Linked DNA regions of Homo sapiens. The protein of the gene in region 7 purifies or fractionates together with the protein of the main gene of each other region. This does not show direct contact. Each region holds a gene or a part of one and is shown on either strand. Other genes may lie near its edges.

What was found.
Region 1: the proteins of NCAPD3 (region 7) and DSC3 purify together in Homo sapiens (co-immunoprecipitation; one large-scale study listed by IntAct). This does not show direct contact.
Region 2: the proteins of NCAPD3 (region 7) and FKBP11 purify together in Homo sapiens (co-immunoprecipitation; one large-scale study listed by IntAct). This does not show direct contact.
Region 3: the proteins of NCAPD3 (region 7) and DSC2 purify together in Homo sapiens (co-immunoprecipitation; one large-scale study listed by IntAct). This does not show direct contact.
Region 4: the proteins of NCAPD3 (region 7) and RAB35 purify together in Homo sapiens (co-immunoprecipitation; one large-scale study listed by IntAct). This does not show direct contact.
Region 5: the proteins of NCAPD3 (region 7) and TPD52L2 purify together in Homo sapiens (co-immunoprecipitation; one large-scale study listed by IntAct). This does not show direct contact.
Region 6: the proteins of NCAPD3 (region 7) and M6PR purify together in Homo sapiens (co-immunoprecipitation; one large-scale study listed by IntAct). This does not show direct contact.

The regions. Positions count from the first base shown.
Region 1 is NC_000018.10:31,039,943-31,044,242, reverse strand, and holds the start of DSC3 (desmocollin-3 isoform Dsc3a preproprotein), read left to right. Parts: upstream 1-1,500; 5' UTR 1,501-1,582; coding exon 1,583-1,651; exon of another isoform or gene 1,652-1,801; intron 1,802-2,408; exon of another isoform or gene 2,409-2,710; intron 2,711-4,300. UniProt on the Homo sapiens protein: A component of desmosome cell-cell junctions which are required for positive regulation of cellular adhesion. Required for cell-cell adhesion in the epidermis, as a result required for the maintenance of the dermal cohesion and the dermal barrier function.
Region 2 is NC_000012.12:48,922,693-48,926,647, forward strand, and holds the start of FKBP11 (peptidyl-prolyl cis-trans isomerase FKBP11 isoform 1 precursor), read right to left. Parts: upstream 2,801-3,955; 5' UTR 2,737-2,800; coding exon 2,608-2,736; intron 2,431-2,607; coding exon of another isoform or gene 2,420-2,430; coding exon 2,354-2,419; coding exon of another isoform or gene 2,082-2,353; intron 1,957-2,081; coding exon 1,869-1,956; intron 1,565-1,868; coding exon 1,531-1,564; intron 1,161-1,530; coding exon 1,090-1,160; intron 913-1,089; coding exon of another isoform or gene 860-912; exon of another isoform or gene 434-859; intron 1-433. UniProt on the Homo sapiens protein: PPIases accelerate the folding of proteins during protein synthesis.
Region 3 is NC_000018.10:31,092,422-31,095,921, reverse strand, and holds part of DSC2 (desmocollin-2 isoform Dsc2a preproprotein), read left to right. Parts: intron 1-2,278; coding exon 2,279-2,363; intron 2,364-3,500. UniProt on the Homo sapiens protein: A component of desmosome cell-cell junctions which are required for positive regulation of cellular adhesion.
Region 4 is NC_000012.12:120,110,254-120,113,753, forward strand, and holds part of RAB35 (ras-related protein Rab-35), read right to left. Parts: intron 1-3,500. UniProt on the Homo sapiens protein: The small GTPases Rab are key regulators of intracellular membrane trafficking, from the formation of transport vesicles to their fusion with membranes.
Region 5 is NC_000020.11:63,875,270-63,878,769, reverse strand, and holds part of TPD52L2 (tumor protein D54), read right to left. Parts: intron 2,955-3,500; coding exon 2,895-2,954; intron 1-2,894.
Region 6 is NC_000012.12:8,939,861-8,943,253, forward strand, and holds the end of M6PR (cation-dependent mannose-6-phosphate receptor isoform 1 precursor), read right to left. Parts: intron 2,683-3,393; coding exon 2,556-2,682; intron 2,081-2,555; coding exon 1,958-2,080; 3' UTR 501-1,957; downstream 1-500. UniProt on the Homo sapiens protein: Transport of phosphorylated lysosomal enzymes from the Golgi complex and the cell surface to lysosomes.
Region 7 is NC_000011.10:134,221,168-134,225,243, forward strand, and holds the start of NCAPD3 (condensin-2 complex subunit D3), read right to left. Parts: upstream 2,801-4,076; 5' UTR 2,760-2,800; coding exon 2,696-2,759; intron 1-2,695. Other genes in the region: VPS26B (vacuolar protein sorting-associated protein 26B), read left to right, coding at 3,956-4,076.

The DNA.
Region 1 (4,300 bases), on a different chromosome or scaffold from region 7:
ACTTTGAGAAGCTTTCTCTGAGGTCATGCTGGAGGCACGTGGAGGATGGGAGGTGAAAACCCTGGAGTGGAGAGAAGTTTGGAGAACTTTCTCTGAGACTGGAAGAGCTCTTACATACAGAGACCTCCACTGACGGGTGCCTGGGAGATTCACACTGGGAAGCTCAACTTAGAGTGTCTGAGCCCTTAAAGCTGAGCCTCATGAGTTTCAGGGAAGCCCCAGACTTCAGGGAATACATGGCTTAGACGACGAGGAGTCTATTAGACTTGAGCCAGAGTGAGATGAATGAAGGTCATAACACCCTTTCATGATTAATTGGCTGTCTGAAATTCCCGACCTTGCAACTTTTGAATGGACTTCGAGGAGTAGCATCTCATGTCTGAGAGGGATTTCCTCCTGAATCCAGTAGATGGGAACTCGGGGAACTTAAAATTCAGTTTAGGGAGAAATAAGAGGATGTCCCCCTGGTGTTACAAACGACATCTCTATTAAAAAGTGTAGCCTACTGGGCTAGGAATGATTGTCTTTCGTCCCTTTCTGACTTTGAATTATTTCCGACAGGAACTAGATTTTCTGCATTTCCTTTCTTCCATGCCCTCACACAAAGCTTGGCCGACTTCGGGCCCTGATAAATAGTCGTTGCATGATGTAGAATCTGTAAGCCTCGTTTTAGAAGGTTTTGTGTGGTAGATATTCCTTTGACCACCTGAAAAATTTCATTTTGGTACCAGTAAGTAGTAAACCAATAATTCACATCTAAGAACAAAGTCGTTTTTAGAAGGTTCATATGAGTCCCCCAAACTGACAGTTAATAGAGCGCTGAGTGTAATCACTCATATTTTGGGTGCGTAAAAATGGTTAGATTAGAATTTCTTAAATTTGGTTTTAATTTCTGACATGCCAAAAACTGTTTATCATGCCATCTGGGATAAATTCCTTCTGTCGTGTATTTTGTCATGTTAGTCAAATCCGGAGAGAATACAGTACATGTATTTTGCTTTAATCTGAAAACATTGGCAGAATTTGTTCAGACGTCGAAGGGGAGATCCGCTGATCCAATGACAAGGGTGTTCCTGGCATCCAGCAGAGCCCGTGTCGAGGCAGGGATCCCTGCGGGCGGATTGGGGTTCTGCATTGAGATGCACCGCGCAGCGCCGGCGATGGGGCCGCCCTGGGACGATCTGGGCTGCCAGGGCCTCTCTGCGGGCCGGGCGGGGCGGCAGCGCCGCGGGGCAGCCGAGGGGCGTGGGAGAACTGGCAGAGGGTGCGCCAGAGACCGCTTTCCCGAGCGCGAACGCCCGGGTGGCTGCTGGGGAGCAGAGGGGCAGGCTCGGGCAGCTCCTCAGCCGCGCCGGCGATGATAAAACTTGAGAAATAACAAGGAGTGGCCTCTCCGCGTCCTCTGGGTCCAATCCGGTTTCAGAAGTGAAGTTGCTCCCGGGCAGGCAAGCCTGAGAGAGGCCAAATACACTTAAAAACAAGCAGCGGCGAGAAAAGCACCTCCCGCGCCCTGCACCTCGGCAGGTCTCGCTCTCGGCACCCTCCCGGCGCCCGCGTTCTCCTGGCCCTGCCCGGCATCCCGATGGCCGCCGCTGGGCCCCGGCGCTCCGTGCGCGGAGCCGTCTGCCTGCATCTGCTGCTGACCCTCGTGGTAAGCCAGATCTCGCCGGATAGGGCTGGGGTGGGGACGGGGGTGGATCCGCCCTGGACGCTGCACGGAGCTGGGGACAAAGCGGGCCGAAACGTGACAACCGCGGCTCAGATCAATGCTGCGGGTCTGGTAGCAGCCCCAAGTTCGGGCCTGCAGGAGTGAGGAGAGAAAACGTGTGTTTGCGGGTCGACTCTGGACTGAGCTTTTTGTTTTGAGACAAGGTGTTCGATTGTTGGAATTCTGAGTCGCGCTCAGGCTTCGCTGCGCTCTGGCGGGCGCCGTCGCGGGTTGGGCAGGGGGTTGGGATTCACGCTTCTCCCCAGGTGGTGGAGCTGGTGGTGATGGTGGTTGGAGGGCGCCTTTGGGTGGAGAGGATCCCTGAGAGCTCAAAGCACAGACTTGAAAAGGGATTTAGGGGCTGCCCCCTCCCCAGCTCTGGGTCGCAGTTGACCCGGATTGGTTCGTTAGTGAGTGGAGCCGGGGCTGTGTCCCTGGGTCCCTTGGTGGGGCTGCCCCTGAGAAGTGGGTTTCTCGGTATCTCCCCTAAAGGGTATTCAGAAGCTCACCCAAGCGGTCCACCCCCGCCAGCCACCCAGCTGGGGGCGGGATGTGCCGGGGGCGCGAAAGTGTGGGAAGACCGGGCCAGAATGGGGGTTGGGGTCGTGTTGTGTTTTGGGGATGCTGCCGAGGTGTGGAGGCGGGTAGAGGGTGACAGTGGTGGGGGATGATGGATGCGGTGGGGTTGCGTCGTACTTACTCCGGCTCCGGGGAGGACTGCGCGGCCGGAGCACAGCCTGGGGTTTCGAGTCTACGGAAACCTGCCGCCCAGGACGAAATCCTCTAGGAGAGGAAGTTAGAGACGATGCTCTGAGAACACGGGAGACTTGAAGTGTTCGGAACTCTGGCGGCGCGGTTACACGCGAAGCTTCAGGCTTCAACAGAGTTTCATTCCGCACGCCCAGAAAGGAGCCGCGGACCCGCGACTTACCCGCATCCATGGATGCGCATGGGGTCCGATGGGAGCGAGGTCTATACCCGCGTCGGCAGTGAGCCGAGTCTGGTCTCGCGGATTCTTACTGCTTCCTGGCCCTCCACCCTGGCAAGTGGGAGTGGGTCCAAGGGTTGTCCTCCCTTAAGGTCAGCGAGGTATGAATATGGGATTGGTAGTTATGATCTACGATATGTTTATGGAGAAGGAATTGGACAAATAAGCGCATCCATTTGCCCGGGAACTGTTCCAACAAAGTATCTGAGCTTATGAAGTGACTACAAATGGAAACGGCTTAGAGAATGTGTTCTTTTGTAATATATTTAAAAGCATTTTCAGCTTTTCAGTTTACAAGCATGCATTTGGGGTTTTGTGTTTCCTTTGCGAAGGGATTGAGGATGGGGAACGAAACTACGGGTGCTGCTCTCAGAATTTCTCGCATTCGCTCGAGGCTCCCAGAGGCCATGGAAGACCAGGAGCTTTCCCGGCAAGGCATGGGTGGGGGTGTCGAGCTGTGGCAAGGAAGAAGGTGCGCGTAAATCTAAACGGAGGAAGCTTCAGCTTTGATCTAGCACATACTCGTTTAAGATTTTTTTTTTTTAAAATAATTCCGTTGAGTTTAGGTTAAATGCTGTATCTGGAGACTTAAATACCGGAAAGTGCACAGAAAATGACTATTTCATCTGCAATTGTCAGTTTACAAACACTTGCAATTTCGGACCGGATGGGTAAATTAACACTTCTCTTGACCATCTCATGTATGTATTTCCTTCCTTTTGACTCATACGACTCTCAACTTTTCAATATAATATTAATGACACGGCATTTTAGAAACATTTTTCATTTTATAGAGACTTTAATGGATATCTTTAAACCATTACTTATCTTTAAAACATTGTTTGTTCTAAGGAGACAGCTTTTCAAAGCAAGTCTTTAACAAGAATCTGAGACTTGTTAAATTTTAGTCTTCCCAGTAAGCAGCCCAACAGGTTGAGGGAATTTTCCCATTCTGCATTTTTCCTGTATCTCCTTCCCACCGTGTGCCCCACCACACTCTGAAGTGTAAATACAGTTTCTAATAATCACACGCACAAAGAAAAAAATGACAGGGAGATACTAAAAAAAGAAGTATATCAGAGCATCTCACTCACTATTGTAAGTTTTTGATTGCCTCAGAAAGTGTTTTTTCCTCTTAATGTAACCAGAATTGTTAGGGATGGTGGAAACTAATTTACATGAGATCAGTTGTCTTCTGCCTGTTACAAATAATAAGATTCTTTTAAAAATATGTGTTAATACTGTTATCAAATCCACTTTAAGATTATGTTATCTAGTATACATTATAAATGGCACATACTTGGACACGGCTAATCCATCATTTTGTTAAAAGGGCTCCTCTTCTAAAGGAACTAAAATAGTTGAAACGTTTGCAATAACTCCCCTCAAATCTGTACTTTTCCTCTTTGGAGTATATGAACTCTGCCTGCAACCTATGTTGATAAATAGGCATCCAAATTTTTATATTTGTTAGGGTTAATGTGAATAATGTGAGTCCTTACCAGAAAAACTTGTGATGTTTTTGCTCTTGGTAATATTTGATATATTCATCATTTTAAATTAAAAGGGAGTATAGTAATTTCTAAAGGCTTTTACATTTGTGA
Region 2 (3,955 bases), on a different chromosome or scaffold from region 7:
GCTTAAGAAGTAAAGGGGCAGGTGGAACAGAAATGAGTGGGCAGAAGAGGTACAAATAAGCAGCACTGGGAATGGGGAGGTAATAGGGCTTTGGGTAAAAGTTTCTCCTTGGTCCCCCTACCCTCCTTCCAGGCCTTCCTCTAAGCTGGAACTAGGATAAGAATTAACGAGCCCAGCCAGGCGCGGTGGCTCATGCCTGTAATCCCCGCACTTTGGGAAGCCAAGGCAGGCGGATCACCTGAGGTTGGGAGTTTGAGACCAGCCTGGCCAACATGGAGAAGCCCCATCTCTACTAAAAGTATAAAATTAGCCGGTCGTGGTGGCGCATGCCTGTAATCCCAGCTACTCGGGAGGCTGAGACAGGAGAATTGCTTGAACCCGGGTGGCGGAGGTTGTGGTGAGTGAAGATTGCACTATTGCACTCCAGCCTGGGCAACAAGAGTGAAACTCCATCTCAAAAAAAAAAAAAGAATTACGAGCCCAATACTCTGTGGAGTACAACACATTTTAGCTAATAGAACATTTGTTAGAACTGAAAGCAAAAGATATGCATCTTGGGAAATCTGTCCATCTCAACCCTTCAAAAATAGACATCGGCAGTGACCAATGATGGCTTTTAAAGTTATGGGGCAGACTTGGCTTTAACAGTTGCTTTTTGTTTTGTTTTGAATCACTTGACTGTGATTATTTTTACTGTCTCTTCCCTGATGGAGGCTGAAAGGAAGGGGTGGGGGGTGGCTGTACAGCTGACACAGCGTAGAGTTGTAGAAAAGGGCAGGAAAGAAGTCCAGTGTTCTGGGAAAGGTGGTGGCACAGGCAGCAGACCCATGTGGCCCAAGCAGGTCTCTTCCCTAACAAGTTACTGGCTGCTGGAGGTCATGCCAGGTGGCCTCATCAGGTTGTCTTTAGTCCCTGTTGGTGATATGAGGAGGAAAAAGGTGGCCCTGTAGATGGAGGCCCCAGCCACTCCTATCTGTCTAAACAAACTTGGTCTGGATCTTCTCAAGCATCAAACAAAGTATATAGCTCCTTATAGCTCTTAGGGACTGGGTATTTTGATGGCCTGAGAGAGAGTCCTAGTCAGATTACCTGGGACAGATGGTGGAAATCCCCGTTTTCCATAGGCCAAGTGAGAAGGAATGATTGCCCTTCGCTTCTCTCTGAGGGAAGGAATGTCAGTCACAGCCAGAGGCAGGAGAGGTAGGCCAGCAGCCTCAGTCCAGCTGAAGCTCCTTCAGCAAAACCCCCTGAATCTTCACACCCAAAACACGAATTTTTCCACCTGAACACCAAACAGGCTGGCCAGCAAAGGTGTCCATCTCCCCATGTGCCTCAACTCCCCCGACAAAAGCAACAGCGCAAGAGGCACAGAGGCTTTGAATGCCCTCAGAGGTCCCACTGACCTGGACCTGTCCAGTGGGAAGCAGGGTCCTTTATTCCACATTCTCCTGCTTAAGGAGTGAGGATGGCCGAGAAAGCCTCTACCCATGCAAAGGGGGTACCCAGGCCCACCCCTGCCGAGATACTCACCCCACACACATGTCGAGAAGACTCTGCTCCAGACCTTGAAGAAGAAGACACAACTGAACTGGAAGCTATCCACCTTCCCCAAATCCCATGACATGAAGATCAAAGTCTTCCTCCTCCATCCTCAATTGACCTTTCCCTCACTTCTTAAATCTCTGGCTTCCAATAGGATATGGGACAAGTGGAGTACTAGAAGTGAGGTTTGAACCTCAGGAGGTAACTCGTAGAGCCCTAGGGTCTTACTCATTTCAGGGGGGATTTCCAGGGCAGCTTTGGAGCCGAAGAGGCTAAGAAAGGGCTTAGGTTGGGAAGAGGTGGAATGGGAGGCACAGGTCACATACCTGGAATCACCTGCTTTTGGCCAAGTTCTATAACCAGAGGGTCTCTGGTCAGGGAGGTGTCAATAATACGTCCATCTACCAAGCTTCCCTGGGGGGAGAGAGCATCAAGAGCATACATCTAGCACCCTCTCCCTCCCAGCAGGCGCGCAACACACACCTGGACCGCTGGGCGGCGGCAGCCCCCTTAGTGCGGCAGCCTAGCGTTCCCCTTACCGCTGTAAGGAACAGGAAGCCCCAGAAGGCTGGCGCTTCTCGGAGATCTCTCCACCCTGCACTTCTCCGTGCCAGGTAGGAACTGGCAGAAAAGCAAGGAGGGAAAAGAGGCACGGAAGAGCAACGTCTCTCCCCTCGCCACGTGCTCGACGACCCCAGAGCCCCGAGTTTCTTCTCCCGAACCGCTTGCCACGTGTCCAAGCCAAAGCTGACGTGTTTCAGCAGGGCGCCGCCCCCTCCCAGGCCCCGCCCCGGCCCCCCAGACCCCTCACCGTGTAGTGTATGTGAAGCGTGTCTCCAAAAGCAGCGGGCTCGGCACATGGTTCTGGGGGCTCCACCTACGATCGGACTACAGGGGTCACGGATGCTCTTCCAAAGATCCCGTTCTCGCCCCTAGACCCGGCACCACCCCCAACTCAGTTCCCGCACTTCCTCTCCTCCCGGCTCCCAGGTTCGCTGAGACCCCAGTATTACCACCCAACAAGGCTCGGCCCACGGGGGCTGAGGGTCGGGACTATCTCCTCACCAGGGTCTCCACTTGGAGGGTCCGGACGGGACTTTCGGTTTCGAGCCCAGCCTCAGCCCGGCACACCGCCGCACTGAGCAGCAGCAGCAGCAGCAGATGGAGCGGGAGGAGTGAGGGGCGCAGGGTCATGACTGGGCGCGGGGCAGGGAGCCGGGGCACCAGGACAGGCTGTTCGGGTGGCGGCAGCCAGGACAGCGTTCCCGCGGCGCCCAGGCCAGACTGGACGGGACGGGGCGGGTCGCGATGCTAGAGCTCCTCCTCCTGCAGCCCTTCCTCCACCTTGTCCCCACCTCCGAAAGGGAGGAGGCCGAGGGGCGCCCTCTGTACCCTCCAAGATCCGGAGGGCGCAGGTTCTGACGCATCCGTTAGACGTTCTGTCCTATAACGTGGGTCGGGCCAAACAATAGCACCCATTTACGATTACCTACTGTGTGTCAGGAGCTAGTCTCTAATCCTCAAAACCACCCTGAAAGGTCGGCATGATTGTTTCCATTTTACAGATAAGGCACAGGGTGCTCAGGATGTGCCCAAGGTCATCAGGCTAGGTGGTGACAGAGACAGGATTCAAACCCAGGACTGCCTGAGTCCAACGTGGTTGCTGTCTGTTCTTCCAAGTCGTCTCCTTGTGGCTATCCTGGCAGTGTCTGGCTGGCAGACCCCACCCAGGCAGTTCTCATTCCTCTCCGACCTCCAGCTACTTCAGCTTGAATTTCTGGAGGTTATAGATCCAAGTATCCGAAATAAGGCAGGGGGCTGTCCTATCCCTGTCCTTTGAAAAGCTAGCTGAAAAGAGCAAGGAGCTGTTATCCTGTAAGAACAGGGTAAATCCCTGATCTTTTCCTCTGGTGCTACTATTTCCTTTCTCCTTTCATCAACAAACTTCTCAAAGGGCAGCACACGTAATCCATTTATGTAAAGACTTCACTTTTTTTTTTTTTTTTTTTTTTGAGATGGAGTCTCGCTCTGTGGCCCAGGCTGGAGTGCAGTGGTGCCATCTCCACTCACTGCAACCTCCGCCTCCCAGGTTCAAGCGATTCTCCTGCCTCAGCCTCCCAAGTAGCTGGGATTACACCCGCCACCACGCCCGGCTAATTTTTGTATTTTTAGTAGATAAGGGGTTTCACCATGTTGGCCAGGCTGGTCTCAAACTCCTGATGTCAGGTGATCCGCCTGCCTCGGTCTCTCAAAGTGCTAGGATTACAGGCGTGAGCCACCAGATTTCTTTTTTTTTTTTTTTTTTTGAGGGGGAGGAGTTTTGCTCCTGTTGCCCAGGCTGGAGTGCAATGGCGCGATCTTGGCTCACCGCAACCTCTGCTCCCGAGTAGCTGGGACTACAGGCATGCGCCAC
Region 3 (3,500 bases), on a different chromosome or scaffold from region 7:
TTCACATATGCCATTCTTCTGTTTGCAGCATTTAAGCTCTGCCTCCTCTTAGCCTGTCTCACTTGTAGCCGCTCTTCAGGTGACCTCACCTGGCTTTTAGATATCACTATTACCTCTGCTCTCCCATAGCTCCCTGTACTTCCCTATCATTACATTTGTCTTACTTTGTTGAAATTACAAATATGTCTTACCTTAGATTGAATGTTTCATGAGGATCATGTTTACTGCTCTGTGTGTGGTACATGATACACATTCAGTAAATATTTGTTGAATTCATGCATGAATGGATGGATGTCCAAGATACTGTTATTCAAAGAATTGTCTTAATCCAACCATTTTTCATCTTCTCCAACATTATTACCTTAGCCCAAGTAACCATTACCCCACTCTTAGATTCCTGCTGTAGTCTCCCAATCAGTCTCTTGGTTTCCACTCTTGCTCTTCTATAACCTATTTTCCACATAACTAGTAGAGTGATTCTGTATAAATATCAGTTTACGCCACTCCACAGCTTCTTCATCAGGCTGTTGCTTCTCTTTGCACTCAGAACAAAATCTGCACTCCTTACCATGACCTTTTAGACCCTACATCATTTGCCATTGACTGTCCTTTTGTTTTCTTCTCCTGTCACTCTTCCCTCGCTGTGCTCTGCTGCTATGACCACCTTGTTTCTGCAATACACAAGTCTCCTTCCAGGGTCTTTACTCTGGTTCTTGCCCTACCTGGAAGACTCTTCCCTGGTTAGAAAACTGGTTTACTTCCTCACTTCATTTACGCTCAGGTATTCTCGTTGTCACCCTCTCTCCCTGCTTTATTTTTGTCGTGACATTTATCTCTCGCTGCCTTGGCATTATGTGACATTTGTGCATTTGTGTATTTCTTTTGCTTCTTATTATCATGTAATCTTCGTGAGGCAAGGACTTGGCTTTGTTCACTGCTCTAGCCATTGAATCCGTTTAGCACCTACTAAGCAACCAGTAAATGTTGGTTGAATGAATAAGTGAATGTATTCTTCCAATCACCTTGAGCTGGAATCTTCAGAATCATCTGATTCTACTCCTATTCTCTCTTGGCTATGCAGCCAGTGAAAATTCTTCATATCATTTAATTTCCAGTTCAAAACTAATGTCTTCATTGTGTCTATCCCAACATTCCAAATGAAACACAACCTCTGCCTTATTTGATCCTTCAAATGTAATTAAAACTGGATAATTTAAGTCTTTAATATATATTAAAAATAAACATTTCCATCCAAATTTTGATGATTTTAGTTTATATTTATAAACTTTGTAAGTAACAGTGTAAATGCTAGTTAACTGTCTTGCTTTTGGTCAAAGATGTTTGTAAAACTAGAAAAAAAGAATGTGAATCTTTGAGAAACATCCATTGTAAAGTTTCAGACAGAACAAAATTAAATTTCAGTGTGTTTACGTATATGTTGCATTGGACTTGGTTCACCATGAATCACTAAACCATTGAAAATTTTTAAGTAAATTATTTTCTAAAATGAACTTAACTTTTATTTATGAGAAGATACACCTTCAAAATAATTTTATATTTCAAAGTTATGTGCCTATTGTGTGGAGTAACACATAAATATTCTCCAAATCACTTCATGGCAATAAGTTAATGTTTGTCTTTAAAAGCATTTACTTTTTGTTTAGGATATTATTGATTTGATATCATATCTCATAAGCAATTAAAAATGTACTGAAACAGTTTGCTGCCTCAGTAAATTTGGTTTTCTCTTTCCTATGTATATACCTGTGCTGCCTTCCTGATAGTTTTCAGCACTCTCCCACCTAGGCTGTTGTTGGATCGTCACTGTACCCACTGAGTTAATCAGTGAAGTTATTACATACGTTTTACAATATAGTAAACAAAGCTGAAGAGCATACATAACTCTTTGAGTTTACAAGCTTTTTGCAGGAGGAAGCTAGAACTCAGTATATTGTTTTATTCTTCTCCTTGATATATTTTTGTCCTGATTTCTTTCTCCAATATGTTTTTATTTTATCTCCAATATTTTATTTATGTTTTATTTATAATAACATAAATCACATATAATTATAAATATAAATTCATGTATTTATATTTAATTAAATATTTTAAAATTAATATTTAGTGTAGTCAATATGTAATATAATTAACATTTATATAAGTATTATATGCCTTTTTATGTGTATATCATTATAAATTTATAATTTATATAAATAATATACACATTAAAGTTTTCTTTTTATGCATAATATTTATTTGATTTTTTTTCATTTTTTAGATCTTAATATTTGCCAGTGATGCCTGCAAAAATGTGACATTACATGTTCCCTCCAAACTAGATGCCGAGAAACTTGTTGGTAGAGGTAAGGAAGCCCTAAAATTTGTAATAAATCCTGTTTTGCTGTGGTACATATACGCCATGGAATACTACACAGCCATAAAAAGGAACGAGATCTTGTCCCTTGGAAGGGATGTGGATGGAGCTGGAAGCAATTATTCTCAGCAAACTAACACAGGAATAGAAAATCAAACACTGCATGTTCTCACTTATAAGTGGGAGCTGAGCAATGTGAACATGTAGGCACAGAGTGGGGAACAACACAAGTGGGGCTTGTTGGGGGTTCTGGGAGGGCGAGAGCATCAGGAAAAATAGCTAATGCATGCTGAGTTTAATACCTAGGTGATGGGTTGATAGGTGCAGCAAACCAACATGGCATGTGTTTACCTATGTAACAAACCTGCACATCCTGCACATGTACCCTGAAACTTAAAATAAAAACACACATACAAAATAAATCCTGATTTGCTGTGGTATTTTAAAATTAGTGTAATTTTTAGAATGATAACTCTGTTGGGACCAGTAGATAAAACTAATGTAGTATATTATCATTTGTAATATTTGTGGTGTCATTCTAATGAAAGGAATATTGTTATTTTTGGAAAACATGATTATATGAAGTTGATAAAAATATTTCACTTGAGTAATAATTATTAACATTTACTTTAGAGAAAAGATAAAGACATTTAACATGCCTCTAAAAAATTGAGAAATAGTACTGAAACTGTTTTTTTTAGTTTAAAGATACTGTTTTTGGATTTTTATTCTTAAATATTTCACTCTGTATTGTATTTTTTTATCAATTAAATTATTTCACATAATTCTGTAAGAAAAGATCAATCCAATGATAGCATAAAATGTGATCACTGTTTAGCAATAGATGTAAAGAATTTAGTAATATTTTCATTTAGCAAATGCCAATTTTCATCTGCTAGATTCTGTATAACTTCAGGTGTATTTAGGTGTTACTCTATAGCTTATTTCTGTTGATAAAGAAAAAAATTGTTTTGGTTTTGGTTTAAAGATTCAAACACTGGAGCTCACATATGTTTACTTCAGAGCAAATGTCTCTTCTTTAAGAGAATGTTAAGTAGGTATTAGAAGTGATGTAAGTATTTAAGCACAACTTAATTCACCATATAGTTTTATGTGTCCTTTCAAA
Region 4 (3,500 bases), on a different chromosome or scaffold from region 7:
GAGCCTAGGTGTCTGTTCATGGGAGAAGCCCACAGCATTTTTTTTTTTTTTGGAGAGATAGGGCCTTACTCTGTCTCTCAGGCTGGAGGGCAGTGGTGCGATCATAACTCACTCTAACCTTGAAATCCCCAAGTACTACAGGTGTTCGCCACCACACCCAGCAAACTCTTTAAAAATTTTTTGTAGAGATGGCCTCTCACTATATTGCCCAGGCTGGTCTCAAACTCCTGGCCTCAAGCAATCTGCCCGCTTCTGCCTCCCAAGGTGCTGGGCTAACAGGCCTGAGCCACTGCATTTGGCTCCACAATTTTAATAGATTCTCAAGAAGGGCACTGCCTCCACCTGCACTCTACCAAGTAACCAAAGCGGAAAACCACTGTCGCAGTTGTATTTCCCTAAGCCTAACCCCAGCATCCTCTCTGGGCAATCCTCTAAAGATCTCTTCTGGGAGCTTCTCCTGGTGAGTGAGCTGCCCCACGATGCCCAGAAGAACTTGTTTCACTGAGTAAGCCTGGGTCCTACTTTCCTAAAGACAGGCCAGGGTGAGGCTCTCCTGGGCAGGCAGACGCTGCTCAGCCTGGGCCTGCAGGGCTCATGCTCAGGGCCACTTCCTCCTTGCTCCGCCGTGAGGCTTCCTGCTGAGCTCAAGGAGAGCCCGAGTCCCGGGTTGGGTCCTTCACGGCGCTGTGCCCAACACCAGCACCCCACTGGCCTCGCCGCCTCCTCTGCTTCCTCCTGGAGCCTTCTGGGTCCAGCTTACTCAGCTAAAAGCTTGAGTCTGGGAGTTCCTCTAGGACAGAGCCCTCGCCTCACCCGCCCTGTGCATTCACAGTGCTGTAAGCCAGGCCCAGCACTTAGTAGGTGCCAACCAAACACTGCTTAATGAATTTCTGCCTAAACGAACGCCCGCCACACTGACAGCTCTGCTATCCAGCGCTCCCACTGCAGCACAGCAGGCGCCTAAGCAGGGGTTTCCAAACTTCTGCAGGGCAGCAGAATCCTTTTCTTCATCCAAGCTTTACCCAAATCCCATGTGTAAAACAGCTCTCTCTGCAATGACACAGCAGTATCCCCTCCAGCTTGGCCTCTCCAGGTCCCCATACTGTCCCCAGGCGTCTCGGCAGAGCAGTTAAAAGCCACTAGGCTGGCCAGGCGCAGTGGCTCACACCCGTAATCCCAGCACTTTGGGAGGCCGAGGTGGGCAGATCACGAGGTCAAGAGATCGAGACCATCCTGGCCAACATGATGAACACCCCACCTCTAGTAAAAATACAAAAATTAGCCGGGCGTGGTGGTGCGTGCCTGTAATCCCAGCTACTCGGGAGGCTGAGGCAGGAGAATCGCCTGAACCCAGGAGGCGGAGGTTGCAGCGAACTGAGATCGTGTCACTGCACTCCAGCCTGGGCGACAGAGCGAGACTCCATCTCAAAAAAAAAAAGCCACTAGGCTGCAGAAAGACCACAACCATCACCACATTATCTGCTGCTTTGGACCTGACACCAACCTCTGACACTGCTCTCCCTTTGAGAGGAACAGAAACCCACCCCAAGAAACACTACCTCCTAAATATCCCTGGAAGAGGCTTCCTCGGAAACACAAGCTGCAGCCATTACCCCACACCATCAGTGTCAGGGCAGGAGCAGAGGGCACCCACCAACCTTCACCACAGCCACCCCCGAGGCTGCCCAAGGGCACATCAGCATGACCCCAACCAGTCCAGCCTGTCATTCTTTTTTTTTTTTTTTTAAATGGAGTCTCACTCTGTCGCCCAGGCTGGAGTACGGTGGCGCGATCTTGGCTGCAACCTCCACCTCCCAGATTCAAGCGATTCTCTTGCCTCAGCCTCCGGAGTAGCTGGGATTACAGGCGCCCGCCATCACGCCCAGCTAATTTTTTGTATTGTTTGTAGGGACAGGGTTTCACCACATTGGCCAAGCTGGTCTCGAGCTCCTGACCTCAAGTGATCCGCCTGCCTCGGCCTCCCAAAGTGCTGGGATTATAGGAGTGAGCTACTGCTCCCGGCCTTTTACCCCTGGCTGCTGTATCTGGTCCTCACCACGCAAGCCACACACATGTCTTCCCTTCCTCCTGCTCCTGCCTGGGCTATGGCCCCCTCACTCCTCTCTGCTTCAGTTCAACCTCTTGAAGAGCCCTGACCTTTCAGTGAACTGTTCTCGATATTTTTTTTTTTTTTTGAAACAGGATCTTGCTCTGTTGCTCAGGCTAAAGTGCAGCAGCGTGATCATAGCTCATTGCAGTCTCAACCTCCCAGACTCAAGAGATCCTCCCACCTCAGCCTCCCAAGTAGCTGAGACCACAGGCGTGCACCACCATGCCCTGCTAATTTTCTTCTTTTTGTTGAGACAGGGCCTCCCTATGTTGCCCAGGCTGGTCTCAAACTCTTGGGCTCAAGTGATCCTCCACCTCGGCCTCCCAAAGTGCTGGGATTACAGGTGTGAGCTACCGTGCCTGGACCTTTTTTTTTTTTTGAGACAGTGTCTCATTCTGTCACCCAGGCTGGAGTGCAGTTGTGTGATCCTAACTCCCTGTAACTTTGAACTCCTGGGTTAAAACAATCTTCCTGTCTCAGCCTCCCACATAGCTGGGACTATAGATGTGCACCACCACGCCCAACTGATTTTTTTTTTTTTTTTGAGATGAAGTCTCGCTCTTGTCCCCCAGGCTGGAGTACAGTGGCACGATCTCGGCTCACTGCAACATCCGCCTCCTGGGTTCAAATGATTCTCCTGCCTCAGCCTCCCGAGTAGCTGGGATTACAGGTGCGTACCACCACACCCAACTAATTTTTTGTGTTTTAAGTAGGGACAGGGTTTCACCATGTTGGCCAGGCTGGTCTCGAATTCCTGACCTCAGGTGATCTGCCCACCTCGGCCTCCCAAAGTGCTGGGATTACAGGTGTGAGCCACTGTGCCCGGCCTTTTTTTTTTTTTTTTTTTAAGAGATGGGGTCTCGCTATCACTATGTTGCTCTCACTATGGTCTCGAGTTCAAGTGTTCCTCCCGCCTCATCCTCCCAAAGCACTAGGACAAACTACTGCCCCCAGCCATGTTCTCAATTTTAAACCTGCCTCAGCCACCACCTCACTGTATAACCTCACACAAGTCACGCCCCCTCTCTGAGCCTCAATTTACTCATCTGTCAAGTGAAGGGCTAACTCCATCTCCAAATGAGGATGGCTGGCCTGAGGGATGCAGACGACATGCTGTTACAAATCAAAGCCAGTGTCAGAGAGTATAAGGGAAAGTATAGAAAATACAGAACTGGCCGGGCGCGGTGGCTCACGCCTGTAATCCCAGCACTTTGGGAGGCCGAGGCGGGCGGATCACGAGGTCAGGAGATAGAGACCATACTGGCTAAAATGGTGAAACCCTGTCTCTACTAAAAATACAAAAGATTAGCCGGGCATGGTGGTGGGCACCTGTAGTCCCACCTACTCGGGAGGCTGAGGCAGGAGAATGGCGTGAACCGGGGAGGTGGAG
Region 5 (3,500 bases), on a different chromosome or scaffold from region 7:
CAGACAGCGGTTTCGTCCCACTGCCAGTGAGCTGTCCCCTGGGCAGCACAGGGCATCTGGGGGACATCCTTGCACTCCCCCTCTCCTGAGTCTGTCTCTGGGGGCTGCCCCCACTCCCACTCAGGATGGACAAGTGATCCAGGCCTGGCCAGAGCACACCACCTCCAAGGCCGCAGCCATTAGTCCAGGGAGACCCATATGGGGCCACACTGTTGGGCTGCAGCAGTGGGGGCAGGGACTTCTCTGCCTGGTGAGTGCTCCCACCTCCCTGTTTGGTTGATGCTACCTTGAGTCGTGCTTTCTGTCACCTGCAACCAAAACAACTCCAAGTGAACCAGCTCATAACTGCAGGATCTATATGATGCCCCTCTCAGCACTGAGGTTTTTAGTTACCTCTGCCTATAAATAGAATGCAACAGGCAATTGTTTCACCACTCGCAGAACACAGCTGCTCTCGCATTCAGACATGACCCACTGAGAATGTGGCCGCATTGCAGCCTCATGGGGCCAGGCACCAGTGCTATCCTCCACCCACCGGCCACGTTCTCCTTCCCGTCCATCCTCCAGGGCGCCAATAGCTGAAAGGATCTACAAACACGTGGGTCAGGATGCAGGGAGCTTTTACTGCCTTCCCCTGCAGAGCTCTGGGCAGTGGAGGTACATCTACAGCCCATCTCCTGAAGCTGACTAGGAGAGGCACCAGCCAGGAAGAGCACGCGCCATGGCCACATCCTCAGGCCCCACCTCCCAAGCCGCATCCCTTCCGTCTGGGCCGTCCCGGCAGAAACCACCGCCCTCGGCCTCGGCCGTCCCGGCAGAAACCATCGCCCTCGGCCTGGGCCTTCCCACCAGAAACCATCGCCCTCGGCCTGGGCCGTCCCGGCAGAAACCATCGCCCTCGGCCTGGGCCTTCCCGGCAGAAACGCTTCCACTCTGGAACCGTCAGTTGACAGCTCTCGCCACAGAACTCAGGGGAATGGCCTCGGCCAGGTGATGCACTGGCCATATGCTTCCATGCTGAGCCACAGGTTTCTCCAGAGGGGTCGGGACGCTGAGTGTTGTAATAAGCTCTCTAAAACACTATTTATTTGAAATAGGATCCCGGCAGCTTTATGTCAGTTGGTTTTACAAAACAGCACTGAAGTCTCCTAAGACTATTTTCAGACTGAGTCTGCACTGTGCGTCCGCCTGATGCCCAAACTGCAAGGATGACCGTCACTGTCCCAACCTAGGAACCATCTGCTGCCCAGCAAAGTCACTGTTCAACAGCCCGAGACACAGCCCACCAGGGTCCCTAGAACACCCTGCTCAAGCCGGGTGCAGTGGGTCACGCCTGTCATCCCAGCACTTTGGGAGGCCGAGATGGGCGGATCACGAGGTCAGGAGATCGAAACCATCCTGGCTAACACCATGAAACCCTGTCTCTACTAAAAATACAAAAAATTAGCCGGGCGTGGTGGTGGGCGCCTGTAGTCCCAGCACTTTGGGAGGCTGAGGCAGGCGGATCACGAGGTCAGGAGATTGAGACCATCCTGGCTGACATGGTGAAATCCTGTCTCTACTAAAAATAGAAAAAATTAGCCGGGCGTGGTGGCGGGCGCCTGTAGTCCCAGCTACTGGGGAGGCTGAGGCAGGAGAATGGTGTGAACCCGGGAGGCGGAGCTTGCAGTGAGCCCAGATGGCGCCACTGCACTCCAGCCTGGGAGACAGAACGAGACGTTGTCTCAAAAAAAAAACCAAACAAACAAAAAAAACCCAGGGCAACATGCCATGAACCACCCGGGTCCCCAGAGCACCCAGATGTACAGCTGGCTGCTGTAGCCATGCCCACAAACCGCCCGGGTCCCTGGAATACCCAGGGCAACATGCCGTGAACCGCCCGGGTCCCCAGAGCACCCAGATGTACAGCTGGCTGCTGTAGCCATGCCCACGAACCACCCGGGTCCCTGGAATACCCGGGGCAACATGCCGAGAACCGCCCGGGGTTCCTGACACCAGCCTCCCACCGTGACACCAGACGCAAAGGCTCCATGTGCACGCAGTGCCAGCCTGGTCCCCCAGGACCTTCAAGACAAGCTCGGCAGCAACTGCTTCCTTTCAGACCAACATGGGAGGACTTTCTGCCCATGTTCTGTGGCAACGATTACAGCGCTTCCTTCTAAATAACAGATGAAAAAATCCCACAGAGACTATTTAAAAATATTCCCCTCCTCAGTTTAAAGACGTTATAATCAGATCAGAGCACAAGTAAATGAAGTGCTATTATCTAGTTTAAGGATCTCCAAATATTAGGAGTCACTCTGAACAACACCACTGACACACACATACAAAACTATCCACACTTGATCCACACTGGCTGATGCTCTGACAATGCAGTGCCTCCCAGATCGTGAGGATTTCAAATTTCCACCAGCATATCCTACACCATGCCCTCCACTCAAGAACTACCCCTAAAGGAGGAAAGGAATTCTGAGAACCCAACAGCTGGAGCTAAGCAGGGAAAAGGGTTAGGGTTAGAACAAACAAAAATTCGCCACCAACAAACCCAGGCCAAGTGGTGTTGTCCAGCTTGTGCACTGCCGGAAGCCAAGGAGCTCTATTAGTTAGAGATACAGCCAGGACCAGTGCAGGCCTCTTACATAAGGGACGCATATCAGGCAGAGGGGAGTTTTAAGTGTGGTCAGGTGGCTGAGTGAGTTTCTCTCAGCTACTATTCCCTGTTCCACAAAAGTTTAAAGGATAGTTTACCTGAGAGAAGAAAAGTTATAGGAAGAAAAAATAGCCAGCAAATACCAAAACAAGCTTTGTGCCAAGTGTGCACAGCCCCCTTCCCCGACTGAGTGTCAGGAGGCGGAGAGGAGGAAGGAGGAGGTGCTGATGATACAGGCACTCACAGGTCTGACTGGGTCACTTTCTCATTCCACTCTCCAAGTTTCTCAGAAGTTTTCACATAGCTAAAAACAGAAAGTCTACAGTGAATTATTTAGAAGAACAATTTTAACTCAGGCATCAAACTGCAGGTGAAGTTCCAGGGAAGACAGAGAGGGACCAGCTGGCAGGAACATCAACTCCACAGACGGCCCAAAAATGGGGTCCACTGCCTCAACCAGGCCCTGTGCAGGCCCCAGGCCGCCAGGTGAGCTGTGGGTATAGCGGAACTGATGTTCCCTTTTCTGTCACCTGGCAGTAGCCCCTGGTCTCTCGCTAGGAGATTCTTGGGCAACAGCACTGCTGTGGGGGACTGGAAGGGCACAGCCCACAGCTCCAAAACACCCTTGGGATTCAAAACTTACGATGTCCTAGGACAAAAACATGGGCCTCTCATATGTGAGATTTATGAAATGTGACCTGTTCTGTCTTTGTATAGGAACATGTCTTCTGGGAAACATTCCACAGCCACCCCAACCTTGAAGGGTATGTTTCAGAGAAGCCACGTGGACAGGGCCAAGTGAGAAAGCAGCACTCCCCAAATTCAGAGCTGAGCGACATCTGGGACAGGT
Region 6 (3,393 bases), on a different chromosome or scaffold from region 7:
CCAATGGGAGAGGTAGGGTTTTTCTAGCTTGTGTGACAGAAGTAGCAAAATCTGGTCCTCCCCCCTCCCAGTGTAGCTGTGGCTCAGAGTTTTTTCTTTTTGTTGTCACTTACTCCCTTGTGATTGAATTTTTTCTCCTGCATCCATGGCAGGATCCCCAGCCAGTATAGAGACTTGGTTGGCATCTTCTGCTGCAGGGACTAAAAGTATTTGACTGGGGCACATGTGGCTGTTGTCATTCTTTCTGCATCCCACTGTTCCCCTCCAATTTATGTTATTTTCTACCCTGTTTTTCAGTTCCATCTCTGCTCTGTCCTATAGCTTTATAAAACCAGAGTGTGTGGGGCTGAGGTCAGGAGTATAAGTACCTGCCTTAGGCACTATTCCTTATATAACAAAAATATTAAATATTTTTTTCCTCAGTAAAAGGATGAAAATTGGTTTCAGTTGTCTTACTCTATTCCAGTCTTTGCCCACTTTCACACAAATGACAAGGCCAATATGTTTTGTTTGTTTTTTAATCATTAAGAGTTTTTGTACAAAAGGTGATGGTTTTTTTTCTTCATTTTAAAACACCAGGGTGTGGGGGAGGGATGCAAACAAATAACAAAAAAGATGCTTTTGTAACATTATTTTCCCTGTTTAGAAAGAAAAAAATCACTCCAATAGTATTGAAAAGTCCAAAGATGAAATAGTTTCATTTTCTTTTCCTAAGGCTTATAAAAGGCCCCCTGCCTGTTGATTCCATCCCTCTTTTGTGTCCAGTGGAGCCATGTTACTCTTCAGTGGCCCAGGGGTTCACTATTAAAGAAAGATCAGTCCAGGTTTCTGGGCACATGGCCTAAACAGGAAGATGGAAGCATCAGAGGATTAAAAACCTTTCCCCACAGAAATGTGGGCAAGAAGACACTTCCCTGAGCCAGCAGAAGGGACAGGTGCAGCAGCATTCCACACCCAGCGCAGAGGACAGCAGAGCCCTCGATGTCCCACTTCTGCTTCCGTTCCCTTTCTAGAAGATTGAAAAAAAGGTCAAAACCACATGCCTGTGGAGAAAGTGCGACATGTTTAGAAATACTGGTAGGGAACCAGGAGTAAGAAAAGCTTTACCAGCTTTTACTACAAATGGATGAAAGACATCAGGATCCCACCACCGCAAGGTAAAGTGACTTCCCTTTTCTGGAACCCCTGTGGCACAGGAGTACCAATTTTCCTTTCCAACGAACTGGATTTCTGGATAGGCATTTTGGCTGTATGTGGACAGATAAGACCACAGTCCTTAGCCCAATCCCAGCTATACAGTCACCCCAATTTCCACAAATGATGTGATGGTACCGTATAATCCTGTAATTGGGAAATTTCACATTTTTCCTGTCCTAATCTCAGAGGTGGGAGAAGCAAGTCTAGAACATCTCCAGGCTCAGACTAAACGAGAGTACTTGGACTGCAACCAAGTAATCACTGCAAAGTAGTTCCAAGCAGCAAGAAATACCAGATTCTCATGGAGGCTACTATAGGGTACAGAATAACAACATGAAAGCAATCAACCCTGTATAAATAATGTTTCTTGGCATTTTTTTTTTAATTAAAGAAATCCAGTGTCTCAAAAACTTGTGAAAATGTGTTTAAAAAACAAACGGCCAGTGAGCCTGCTACACCATTTTGCCCATATGCCTATTGTAACTTCTGATGTCAAGAGACAATGCAAAAGCCTCTGTTTTCACAGGCCCTATTATATTAACTCTGACTTACAACTGTACCTCTCTAGAGAAAAAACAGAAAATAAGGAACAAAGGGAAGGCAGTTTTACTAGTGAGAAGATGCAAATCAAAAGCAAACTGGAAAGCAAGAGCAATAGTAAGGGTGAGATGAGGGACTGGAGTTGAGACTGCTTGAGAAATCTGGCTGTGTAGCTTTGGTTTGGGGGACTGAGGAAGAGGCTGGACATATAAAGTGCAATCTACATTGGTAATAAATGGTCATCCCTTTCTTCTGACTCCTCCCCCAGCTGGTCATCCCCCACACCACGATATGCTGCAGGCACATTTCGAGGTTTAGAACGGCAGACAAAGTCACAGCCATCCTGTAGGGGGAAAAAAAAGAAGGAAATAATTCGCAGCATCTAACTTTAGGATATGAGAAAGTGTACTTATGGTCTAGGAATGTGGCAAGAATTGGTTTTCTATAGGGATAATGAGAAAACCTAAAAGATCTGACAATCAGCCTAAATTCAATTTGGGGCAACAGGAGAAAAAGTTTCTTCTTATTAGGCCTCACCTTCTTCCCACCCAGGCCCTCTTAAAAGCTAAATCAGATTTAGAAGAGCCCATCTGGTCAACAGTGTTGCTCTTTCAGCAATGTCTTACCAAGGCCAGAAATGGATGCTGTGCCACTTACTACTCTGTACTAGGGCAACTGTCTTGTTTGCTGGGACTTTTGTGGTTTTAGCACTCAATGTCCTGTGTCCCAGGAACCCCCTCAGTGTGAACAAACGAGGATGGTTGGTCACCCAACCTTGTTTGCAGGCTACAAATTCAACCAGCTGCCCTGTTACTTACTGCTACCAGGTTGCCAAGATCCTGCCAGAAGGCTAAGTGGGGAAACTGCTCCATTCCTTTGGCTCCCACTACCAGTCGCTGGTATAGGAACCCCCCAACAACATAAACAGCAACCAGTGATGCAAACCTGTAGAGAGAGAAAGACATCTATACTTAAGAACTGGGAAATAGTAAAAACTCAGATAGGATAACCTCTGCATTTATTGTCAGCTGTTTCCTAAGATACATTCCCTGAAAAGGAAAAATGAGTAGTGATACTAAATGAAAAAGGGGGCTGGTAACTCTTAGAAAACCAGTTAGAGTGCTGTCAGTCCAAGAGAAGCAAAGGCCCAGACAAAATGTGACAGCGTGTGATTCTATGGCCAAGAATAATCACCATTAAGTATATGATTCCATTTCTCTAGAAGTTCTCATAATCTAATGAAATAATATAAAAATTGCCTAGTCCTGCAGTAGGGGAAAAAAGCACCTCCAAATGCAAATCTATACCGGCAACTAAACATTAAATCTCATTTTTCAAAAACTTGCAGTCAGAATTTTTTTTTTTTTTTTTTTTAGACGGAGTTTTGCCCTTGTTGCCCAGGCTGGAGTGCAGTGGTGCGACCTCAGCTCACTGCAACCTCCACCTCCCAGGTTCAAGTGATTCTACTGCCTCAGCCTCCCAAGTAGCTGGGATTACAGGCATGTGCCACTGTGCTGGCTAATTTTGTATTTTTAGTAGAGACGGAGTTTCATCATGTTGGTCAGGTTGGTCTCAAACTCCTGACCTTAGGTGATCCATCTGCCTTGGCTTCCCAAAGTGCTGGGATTACAGGCGTGAGCCCTGTGTCCTGGCAGA
Region 7 (4,076 bases):
TAAAAAACATATATAATTTCTCCAGGAAGTTTAAAATAGAAGAGGCAACCCAGATTCAGACTCCCAGGAATACTTGGTGACTTTAAAACACACTGATTGAAAGAATGTACATTGAGAGGAGGGGTATTAAGACAGCACGCTGGCTGGATTCCACCAATCTCTCTTAACTCTAAATCTTCCCATTCTTTTCTTTTTCTTTTTTTTTTGGATAAACTTTTTTTTTTAACTTAAAGTTTTTGGGTACATGTGCACAACATGCAGGTTTGTTACATAGGTATACACGTACCATGGTGGTTTGCTGTACCCATCAACCCGTCATCTACATTAGGTATTTCTCCTAATGGTATCCCTCCCCTATCCCTCCATCCCCCCTTCCCATTCTTTTCTAATACACTATATTTCTTCAGTGTTGTCATTGTCACTTTCCCAAACTAAAATTAGGACTAGATGGAAATGTGGACATCTCAAATTATTAATCAGGTGTTCCTTCAAATTAATATTAAAAGTATTTGTTCACCACTGATTTAGAGAAGTTGGGCAAGGTATAAATAAGGAAAAAACAGAGATGGGAGCATTACACTGCACTCGGCAAATGAAAATGAAAGGCCTTACACTCAACTAGTTCCATCCTTAGAATACAATCTGGTCATCATCTTTTGTCACTTGAACTTGACCCTGAAGGAGGGGGTCTCTGTACCCTAAGTGGCTATGCACAGCATTCCTTCCAAAGACATGGAATATGCTGCCTGAAAGAAGATCTGAAAAATACAATTGTTTCTTTCCAAATTTCCAGTAATGTTTTAAAGGTCATTATAGACCACAGCAAAAGTTATCTCACTCCTTCTTTTGGTTTTGCTTATGACAGTTCCCTACTGTAAATACCATCAAATCTAATTTGGATGGCAGTAACTGGCCCTGTTATCTACCATTTGGTCACAGAAGTCTTCAGTGTTGATTGTTGAGTGAGAGTATAGGAGACACTGAGTTAGTCTTTTTCCCTCAGTATCTTTACACTATTCAAATCTCTCACTACCTATTTTCTCAGCTGTCGAATGCAGGTAACTTCTGCTCTGCTACTTCACTTAGGATGGAAGAAGAGGAAGAAATACATCACCTATTCACTCAACAAACACTTTGAGAAAATACTAGGGAAGCCACTTATACTTCTAGGGATATAAAGATGAATACTAGAGGGTTCTTGTCCACAAAGATCTCAACATTTCACACTTAGGATACCAAAAAAAGCAGCCTATGATAGAAGAGAGGCCACTGAATTTTGAGTCAGAACGAGGCAAATATCCTGACTTGATCACTTACACATAATTAGTCTCTCCTTCATCATTGGAAATACAGGATTTTTGTGAAACATAATGTGTATAAAGGCCCTAACAATGTGCTAGCCACATAAAAAACAGTCAATAGATGGTATTTATTATTTTTGCTATGGATGAGTGTTAAAATAATAGATATGTAAAATGTAAAATGCTACAGAGCTTAATAGGGAATAGTACTGGGGGAGGAGGGAGAGGAATAAGATGATTCTTCAATTGGACCTGAATGTAAGAGTTTTGCCAGGCAAATAAATGCAGAAAAGTGCCTCCCAGCAAGCACAGTGTAACAAAGCACACAAAGGGAAAGAAATTAAAGTGTTTCTAAATGAACAAAATTGTTACAGTGTTTGCTTGTGGGTATTAGTATCTGTTCAGCAGTTATTATGTGGCAAGTACAAATTTATCTTTACAAAAACCCCTGTGAGGTAGATATTGTACTCCCCATTTGACAGATCAGAAAACAGGGGTTTAGCAAGGATAAACAACCTGCACGGTAATACATGGATGCTATGGGGTAGAGCCAAGGGAACAATCCAAGTGTGTCCGACTCCAAAGGTTATGCTCTTGGAAAATCAAACTGGAGAGAATGGCAGCTCTTATAAAGCATGCCAAGGATGTGGTCATTTATTTAGGAAACAAAGGGGAAACATTAAAGGTGTACAGGCTTGACACATTCAAAGCTGTGTTTTCAAAAGTCGTTCTGCAAAAGTGTGGGGGATGGGCTGGCACAGTTAACATCAGAAAGCAGCTAAAATACTCCTGCAATTGCTCGAGGCTATGATGAAGGCAGCAGCATCAGGAATGGAGCGGGGCTGCCCTGAGACACCTCAGAGGCAGGACAGTGGTAGTGGGCATGAAAGGGGAAGCAGAAATGCCATGACTCCTGGGTTGGTGGCTTGGATGGTGCCATTAGCAGGCTTTGGGAATCCCATTTTCACTCATGTGACGTTTGATGATGTCTGCATGTGAGACATCCAGTGGAACCTATGAACATGAAGTTCAAGAAATAAGTCTGGCGGAAGAAAGAGATTTGCAATTTAAAACCATCTTAATAGGTAAGAATAGATAGGTGCACGAAGACACGCACAGGAAGAAGGGGAAGGCCGAGAAAACAGATGCACAGGCGCTAGAAGAGACTGGCCAACATTCGCTTATTCTAAGGGTGGCCTGGCCGGCTTGAGCCCCCACGGGAAACCTGGCTAGCCGCAATCCTGGCGTGGCACGGCCCTGGGGACCCCAGGCACCGCCGACAGCCGGGCGCCCCCACCCCGCCCCCACCGGCACCCCGGCCCGGGCTTAGGCATCGTCGGGGACGCATAGGACCCTCGCCCTGGCCCCCGGGCCTCCCGGCTGCATCTGCTCACCGAGTCTAAGATCCAGCGGACACCAGGGCTGCAGGCCGCTACCAAGGCCCCGCAACGCCACCATGATCCCAGGGCACCGGCTCGCCGCCGCCGTGCTCAACTTTCAAAGCTCGCTCCCGCGCGCGCGCCGAGTCGTTCCTGTGGACCAATCACAACGTACAGAATTTCCCACTGGCCAACCACCGCGCCGAGCCGTTTCCATTCGCTCAACCAATCACCGGCGTCGTCCGCCGCACGCTCAGAGAACTGGGCGGGCCGAAAAGTGGAAGCCAAACAAGGCTCCTGCGGGTGTTCCGCTAATTCGTTCGAGAAGGAGCCAGGGCCTGAGTTAAACCCTAACAGCGTTTTTCCCGCCTCGTTTTTCTTCAATGGGGGAAAATCTAAAGGGTATCTGAGATAGGGTACTTCCGGTAGTAACTGTCACCTTTGCCCTCGTCAGGCGACATTTCGCGTGCGTGTCAAAGGGCTGCCTTTCCCGTCAGCACTCGAACAGCGTAATATCCGAATGTGAAAGGCAGCCCAACGTGTATCGAGCTAAAGTAATAAGGGAAAAGTAGCCGAAAGCACTCCGAGAAGACAAGACAACTGCAGTTCTGTAGGGACTGCGCGGCACGCGTGGGCCCAGAGCCTGTCCCAGCGAGGTAGCAGCTGCCATGCCGACCGCTGGAGCGCCGGCCGCGCTCTCCCTGCGCATGCGCAGCGAGCTCTCCTCCGGGCTGCCGGGAGTCCCAGGAGCGTTAGGGGGTGCGCCTGCGCGCCGCTGCTCCAGCGCATCCGGGCTGGAGCTCGCCCGCCCCCTCCCCCGCCCGGAGCCGCCGAAGCGCCTCGGTGCGTTGCACCGCCGGAGGCTGGGCAGCTCGCAGCGCTGCTCGGCGCTGGACCCCACCCGGCAGGCGCAGGCCACCCACACCCGGCTCTGTGCGGCTGCCCCCCGCAGCATTGCACGGCCGACCCTCGCCCGCCCACTGCCACCGGCCGCGGGACTGGCTGGGACTGGCTCGGCCGAGGGCACTGCTCCTCGGTGCATTGCTGCTCGGGCGCCGCAGCCCGCAGCCGCCAGCCTCCCCCGGCCGTGCCCCTCCCCCGTGGAGCCGGCTGTCCGTCGGCGCCCACTGCCCGGCGGCAGCGGCGGAGCCAGGCAGCCCCGCGGCGGCCGAGCGCGCTCGCGCATCGGGCCCTCTGGCCTTCTTTACCTAGGGCAGCCCGCGCCCCGGTGCGAGGGAGCGGTCCTTACCGAGACCCGCCCGGCCCGGCGGTGCGATGAGCTTCTTCGGCTTCGGGCAGAGCGTGGAGGTGGAAATCCTTCTGAACGATGCAGAGAGTAGGAAGCGGGCCGAGCACAAGACGGAGGACGGGAAGAAGGAGAAATATTTCCTCTTCT